Homo sapiens: one gene and its partner. The protein of the gene in region 1 purifies or fractionates together with the protein of each later gene. This does not show direct contact. Each region holds a gene or a part of one and is shown in the gene's direction. Other genes may lie near its edges.

What was found. Proteins that work in one complex are often made in the same cells at the same time.
Region 2: the proteins of FER (region 1) and DNM3 fractionate together in Homo sapiens (co-fractionation; one study listed by BioGRID). This does not show direct contact.

The regions. Positions count from the first base shown.
Region 1 is NC_000005.10:108,746,707-108,750,696, forward strand, and holds the start of FER (tyrosine-protein kinase Fer), read left to right. Parts: upstream 1-1,190; 5' UTR 1,191-1,294; intron 1,295-2,241; exon of another isoform or gene 2,242-2,287; intron 2,288-3,990. UniProt on the Homo sapiens protein: Tyrosine-protein kinase that acts downstream of cell surface receptors for growth factors and plays a role in the regulation of the actin cytoskeleton, microtubule assembly, lamellipodia formation, cell adhesion, cell migration and chemotaxis.
Region 2 is NC_000001.11:172,407,998-172,411,497, forward strand, and holds part of DNM3 (dynamin-3), read left to right. Parts: 3' UTR 1-3,500. UniProt on the Homo sapiens protein: Microtubule-associated force-producing protein involved in producing microtubule bundles and able to bind and hydrolyze GTP. Most probably involved in vesicular trafficking processes, in particular endocytosis.

The DNA.
Region 1 (3,990 bases):
GAAAATTAACTTCTATTTTAAGAAGTTTACTCACAGAACCACAGTTTGTGCATTTAACAATCACTATGAAATACATATGAAACATTAACCATCATTTTAGAGAACAATTTAAAAACTCCGAAGTAACTACTTTCCTTAACTTTGTCATCCCAACATTCTGGGTATAGGCATTGTTGGAAAAATATAATTAAAAACCAAAATCTCCCAACCCAGAAATCCTCTCCACAAACGTTAGTAGACAAAACACTTTTATTACTGAATAAGCATTAAACGAGACTGTGATACACATCACAGGCAATTTGCTAAGAGATTGCAAAGACAGAAATCTTGCCCTTTTGTATAGCCAAGTATATACGACCCATTACATACACGTTTTCAAGTTGAACAATAACTAGTCCTCAAGTAAGAGGACCTGACATTTGTGACATTAACTTTACTTAATAATTGGGGTGACCATCTGTGTTAGTTAATTGGTTTTATCCAGAGGAAAAACAAACTTCTCCTGTCTTTATGACGGAAGGTAGTTTTGCAACACGGAGCAAGTTGCTCACCGAAGTTACGCTCCTACTCTCTCACAGAAACTGGGAGATAGGGAAGGATGCTACTCCGTTGATATGTGCAGCATTTCAAAAAAAAAAAAAAAAAAAAGGTCCAGAGACATTCCTGACTGAGCATACAGTTGACAAGACCTATCTAGTCCTCAAGTGGATTTATACACATTTCAAAGAGTTGAGAAAGTACTTAACAATTAAGAAAGTACTTAAGTTTTCTAAGACAAATGCTCGGAGAGAAAGGGACGGGAAATCTCATCCTCCATTTTCAATAGGGAGAATTAAGCCTCTTATTTAAAATTTTTATGTTGGTTTTTGTTTATTTAGCTTTAAAACAGTAGACTTAAAAAAAGTCCAACTTAAGATTTATGTTTTTTTATGTGTAGGGCTGTTCTCTACGGTTAAATAAATAACCCTGCTTAGAGAAAATATTCACCACTCTTCTTTGGCTCCTATGTAACTCAGTTTTTGAGAGGGAGGGGAAATACCGGATTGACGCTATGTGGTTCAACCAATGCAAAAGATAACACCGCCTTAAAAAGTCTACTACAGGAACATGGGAGGGTCACACCCTCGAATAATGACGCATACCTATCCTACTGTTACTGATCACCTAGTAATAATCTTGTAGTTCACATTACTCATTTTTCACCAAATTCTTTTGGTGAAGGACGCTTCAGAAACGGCCATCACTGAAGAGCAGACCCGTTTGGGTTCTCCACGCATTCTAGACTCCCGAAGAGGTAAGAATTTATTATAGGGGGCCACTCCCAGGACCTGCTGTATGCTTTTAAACATCCATTACAATTCCAGCATTGAGTTTCTAACATTTTTAGGCAGGCTCAGGCACTGGGAGTACAGGATTGAAAGACAGTTCCCGTCCTTAAGGGACTCAGAGTAAACTGGAGTTGCTGAAAACCATTCTAAAGCAATCCACGTTAATAACAGATACAAGTAAAACGTGGGAACGTACAGGAAAAAGTGACCAATTCTGAGGCTGAAAAGTGCCTATTTTAGGGGTGGGGGCCTCGCGGCCCTAAAGCAGCTTCCCTTCCCGGAGATTTCAGCTCCAGGGATCGCCCAGCGCCCTCCGGGCACACTTAACATTTTAATCACGCCTCCGCCCCCACTCTCCGAATTCCTTTCCGGCTGCCGACCCGCCGAGTAGTCCCTTCCAGGCGGCCTCAGCTTATCATCGCCGGTCCGGCCACTTCCCGGCCGCGGCCAGGCGAGCCTCCCAAAGTTTCCTGTGAGGCCTTCGTCCGTCTCCGGCCCCATCTCACCACGGCAGCCCAGGACACCCGCTAGGGAGGAGCAGGTTACCGAGGCGGGGAGAGCGGCACAAACGCGCAGACCTCGGGACTCCACCCGGGCTGGTGAGCGAGCCCAGAAAGCGGCGACCGCAGCTCCGCGTCTCCACTCCCAGGGCCCGCAGCTTGGGCTAAGCGTGCGCCCACCCAGCCTAGGGCCCAAGTCCTGCCCCTTCGGGGACCGGGCCAATCGGCCGCTCCCCGCCTCCTGGGAGGTAGTGGAGGAGGGGGCTGAGGGCCGGGCGGCTGCGCCCGCCTTCCGCTCTTGCCCATTGGCTGAGGCCTCGAGGGTGCCCGGAGACCGGAGTGCAGCGGGATTGGTTGCAGAGGTTCGTGACAGTGGCGCCTATTGGCTGTGGCAGCCCCCGTGACGCGGGGTGGTGACTGGCTCCGGAGTCTGAGGGGTTCGGGCTTGTCAGGTTCTAGGTAGGTGCGTTTCGCGCCGCCGGCGGTAGGCGCTGTTGCCCGGGGCAACGCGGGGGGAGGGGGGAAGAGGAGGGAAGGCAAGCCTAGAGCGGGGGCAACAATGCCTGCCCGCAGAGGGGCGCCCGGGATTCGGCCAGGGCGTTGGGGGCTGTGCCGAGGCTCTTCCTCCGCCCTCAGCCAGCGCCCCCCCCAACCCCCGTCCCTGGCTGCAGGGTCATCCGCTCATCCTCCCGCCCGCAGCAGAGCATTCCTGGTTGGGGCTTGGGCCGGGCTACACACCCAGCCCCACGAGGGCCGCCCCTCCCACCATCCCGGGACCCGAAGGCTGAGGGGGCGGGTGCCGGCGCGAAAGGGCTGTGGCGGGCGTAGTGGCTCCGCCCCGTCGCGGGGTCTGGGGGCTGATGGGCGTGAGGCGGGGTGGTGGGGGGACTGTGGGCACCACCCAATCTTGCCTGTACCCTCACCCCTTTTCTCGGCGGCACTCATCTGGGCGCCGCCGTCCCGCTACGGGGGCATTCTCAACCCCTGGTATTCCCCCCATCCCTTCCTGCTTCTGGAGCCCCGCAGTCTCCCTTGACCCGCTCGGTCCTCCCCAGCTCTCCTCCTATCTGTCACCTTCTCCCGCTTTTATCCCCCACCTCATCTTTCTCCTCCGGTCTTGGCCAGAGGTGTCCTCCAAGAGTCTAATCAAGAGATAGATCTTAAGTGTGAAGCTAGTGGTGTCGTCGGTAATTTCTGCTCTGTGGTCTCTTTGCCAGTTAGAATTGGGGAGATGTTTGGAGGCACCTTCAGGGGTCATCCTTCTGCCTTACAGTTACCCCTAGGATCTACTTTCTGAATACGCTCATTGGGTTGTGTTGGTAGGGGCAAGGTACTTCTTAAACAAATTGAGGATTGTACTATGAGGTGGGCACTTTGTACGTTTGCGATTTTGCCATCCACTGTAGTGCAATTCAAAATCTAATAATTTGTTACGGCTGGTAGCCTTACATTTTTTTCCTTCGCCTTATGGTTAAAAAAAGAGCAGCTTTTTAACCTTTTTAATTCAGAAGTTGCGTATATTAATGGTTGTCTCACTATCACTTTGACATAAACTGCTGTAAAGGTGTACTCCATTTTCCTTTTCTCCAGATATGTTAAGATAATAAATTTCTCAGATGAGGTTACCATATATAAAAGTGTAGTGGAACATCAATAAGAGAATAGATCAAAACTATTTTAGTGATTAAAGATTAGAAAATACTTTTCAATTCATATGTGGAATGAGAATAGGATAAAAAAAAAAAACTATTGCAAAATCTTTAGTGCAGTATTTGTAGTCCTGGTATATATACCTGTGTTGCCCTTAAGAAGACATTTGTGAGTAGCTCCAGGTTTGTCAGTCGGGAAAGCAGAGTGTATCTTTTTGTAGTCCAGGAAAGCTTTTCTGCTAGTACTTTTGAGCCAAGAGAATTATGCTTCCAAAGATGCTGGGAATATATTAAGAGAGTACATAGGCATACTTCTGTTTTCATCTTTGAAAGACCTTTAGTGAAGATCTGTTTCTCTTCTGCATTGATTGTTGACAGCATTAAATATACATAATCTAAAACTATGTAGTGTCAAGTTGTTGCAGCTTCTGCACTGCTTCAAAGGTTGATGTCTTTAGTTCAGAAGAAATAATTCAAGCTTTGGTAGACAAATCATTTACATTTCATCTTCGA
Region 2 (3,500 bases), on another chromosome or scaffold:
TGGTATGTCAAACCTTTGGGGTTTGACTCAGAAACTGCTAACCTTTTAGAGGCTTTATATGTTGTACTGACCAAGGTAGGTTTGTATAGCAGCCCTATACTTTGGGGATCATTTGCCTACCATGGCATATATTTGAAATTGCTTTGGACAAGTTTTCTAGGCTATCTACCAGGTAGCTCATTAAACGTAATTCTTCAGATATGAGATAGTGGGCTTAGACCTAAGCCATACATATTTCTTTTCCCACATTCTGTTTAGGATGACAGTAATTCTGTTGTCTACCATTAATGCTACTACCTACTCCATAATTGCCTATTTAGCTCCTCTTTTCTTCCTTTTTATTTCATAAGACTGCTAGGAAGTGATTTTTTAAAATTAGGACTCCTTAAGAATAAACTTTTCCAGAAGCACGAGGTAGTTTGCAAAGGAAAAGTCTGCACTGTTTGCTCTAAAGAGCTTCTCCTCATTCCAATGTGTTTTGCTTCATGCTAGAAGCATATGCAACAGTGAATAAAAGCTTCTTTTTTTGTTAATCAGTCAATAAATTTGGCTAATTAGTTTCAGAGTTCAAGGAAGAAGCAAAATATCACATCTCTAGAAGTGTTGGGAAAAATATAATTTCTTTCTTTACTTATATTCACCTCATGGTAGGTTATATTGAAGGCTGACATGGAGAATGTTTACTTTTCTATTTGGCATAGCTAACTACACTTTGATACTAACTCCAGTTTTACTATTATTATTTTGGTTGGAAAAAAAATTCACTCTTTACGTGCTAATTTGTAATCTTGTTTTGTAAGAATTTATCCTACCCTTGAAACAGGCTCAGTGTAACTGTATATCCATTCTAGGCTTTCTTAATAAATCTTGAGGCTATGGGATAATCACATTTAAAGAATGGTTCCTGAAATGAAGTCAGTAGAAATGGCATGGGATAAGAGCAGAGCTCACACTTTTACAGTTGCAGTATTTCAAAGTCCCTATCCAGGTCACTCCAGAAAAGGGTATTGAAACGTTGAAATCTAAAGCAAATTTGCAATTTCTTAAGATTTCTAAAATTTACCAGAACAGTTTAGCCTGGGGGTTAATAGTTAAGTCTTGAGGCTAAGTTTTGGACTACCAAGGACCAGATGATTCACATGTAGGAAACAGCCAGAAGCCAACTGGAATTTTGTGTGCTAACTGTTCCCAGACAGCAGAGCAAGTATTCACTGAGTAGGGGTGTCCCATGACACTATTTCATATTCTACAGAAGTAAATCAGGTTTCACCAACTGAAATGTCTCCCTTTGAAAGTAGCAAACATGATTTGTATGTTAACTTAACTTTAATTTCCTGTGTAGTTTACACCCAGAGCAGATACTCATAAAGTATAAAGTAAAAACTTTTAACCATTATTAAACAGAGAACTTGCCATGTTGAGTGCCATTGTATTGAACTTATTCTAAAGGCTTATGCTAACCCATTTATAATTGGTAAAAATCAGAAAATACAAGATTTACATAAAGGTCATTTCAACTTTTAAGGTTACCAGTGATTGTATAAAAACATCACAATCCTAAATCCTCTCGTATCTCACCCCAAACCCCAAACTGGGGGAAAAAAAGTTAACTCTTTGTGAATGGAACCAATGTGCAAGATACATACTGCATTTTTAAAATAGTGTCTCAGCTAAATGGAAAACTGTTAAGCAAACATCCATAGTAAAACAAATAATCTTCAGTGAGATCTTTTTATAAAACTTCTTGTTTTTAGGATTCCCTTTGCTTCTTCCTTTGAATTCTCTAAAATAGGCAGCTAACGGATTATATACTTCAGGGTTTGGCTTTGTGCTAAATGTGGTTTTGTGTTTTGCTGTATTTCAAAATTTTCCTTCTGTTAAAGGAAAATATTGTGAATAACCACTGGTGTGTTCTTAGATCAGCACAAACCATGTCAAAAAAAATTGGAGATTTTTTTCCAATTTTCCTTCCACTGATCTTAGGCAGTAATAAACAATGGCATTTGTCATCTTTGGCACTTGCTTTTAGATTATAGTCCCACAGTTGCACTGCCCCAATTGTCTACCTTTGTGGGTACATTTTTGTTCTTTACTCCTAAGTTATTTCTCATAGAACCCAGCCTACTCTAGAATTTCAGCAGTGACATTGGAGAATATTTTTAATTTGCTGCAGTACTATGTCATATTATTAGTATGAATCTCATTTCCCAAAGGGTTTGTATTCTGCTAAAAGGAGATGCCAATGTTGAATGAAGTCTGAAACTCTAGTATGTGCATAGTTTGACGTGCAGCATGCACACCAGGCCTTAAGATGGGAATGTAGCTTAATGATTTTCTGTTTCCCATACCATTTCTAATCTTTTGTGTAATTTTCTCTTAACTGATTGCTCTGATATTGTAAACACAATAGATGTAGCTCTATCATGTCTAGCATAATTTAAAAAATCAGTGTTTTTAGGATTTGGGAAAATAAACTGTAAATGTTTATTTGATAGGTAAATATAGTTTTATTGTCACATGCTAAATATTGCATGCATATTGACTAATTGGAATAACCATTTACTCAATTATGGACAGCTTATTGAAATAGTATTGATTTAGAAAAAGTATATTGCATTTCTAAAAAACATCTACCAAGGTTACTCGTCTGAATATTGCTTTTAGCCGTGTTTTATAACATAGACGAGCAGTAGGGTCTGTTTATTAGCAAATTTCCTATTTGTTCCAATACAAACTCACTTTATTCTAAAGTATATTAATGAAACCAGTTCCTGTGATGTAACTGTAAGCCTTCTCGACTTAGACTTAAAAAGTGGTCACATAGATTAATTTTGTGACTTTTTAGTATAGACTGTAGCCATAATTCTCAAATATGAAATGGGACCTAATACCAGTATGTGATAAATGTTGATGTTTTCTGTGTACAAACACATTTTCTATGCATGTGTCTCTGTGTATATGGCATATACCTAGTAAGTATGTTTCTGTAAGTATGTGTATTTTATGTCCATTTGAGTAGGTAGGTAGGTTTTAAAAATACTAGTTAAAATGCCACAAGCATGAGTGTGATTGTATGTGCACTGTGTGTATATATATAAATATATGTATATGTATGGTTGTAAATATCTATGTATACATGTACTTAGTATGTGTGGTATCAGGATATTTTTTAAACTGTGATAATACAACAGATAGCTTTGAATGATCTGCCATAACATGTGGTAACAATAGTTCATTTCTCATAACATATATGAGGTATACAAAATTTTCTAACTCCAGATTGTAGTCATTTTGAGAGGTACAAAGCTCATAATTACCATGACAACATGGTAATGTCCATAGACATTTGTATCTGAATCCACAAGAAGATCTGAATCTAAGAAGGAATTACCTTTGACAATATTTTTCGGTAAGAAGTAAAACCTCTGGAGACCTATCTTTAAGATCTCTAATTGGAATTATAAATTATTTTTGGATTGCTGAGCTGAATCTTAAAAAGC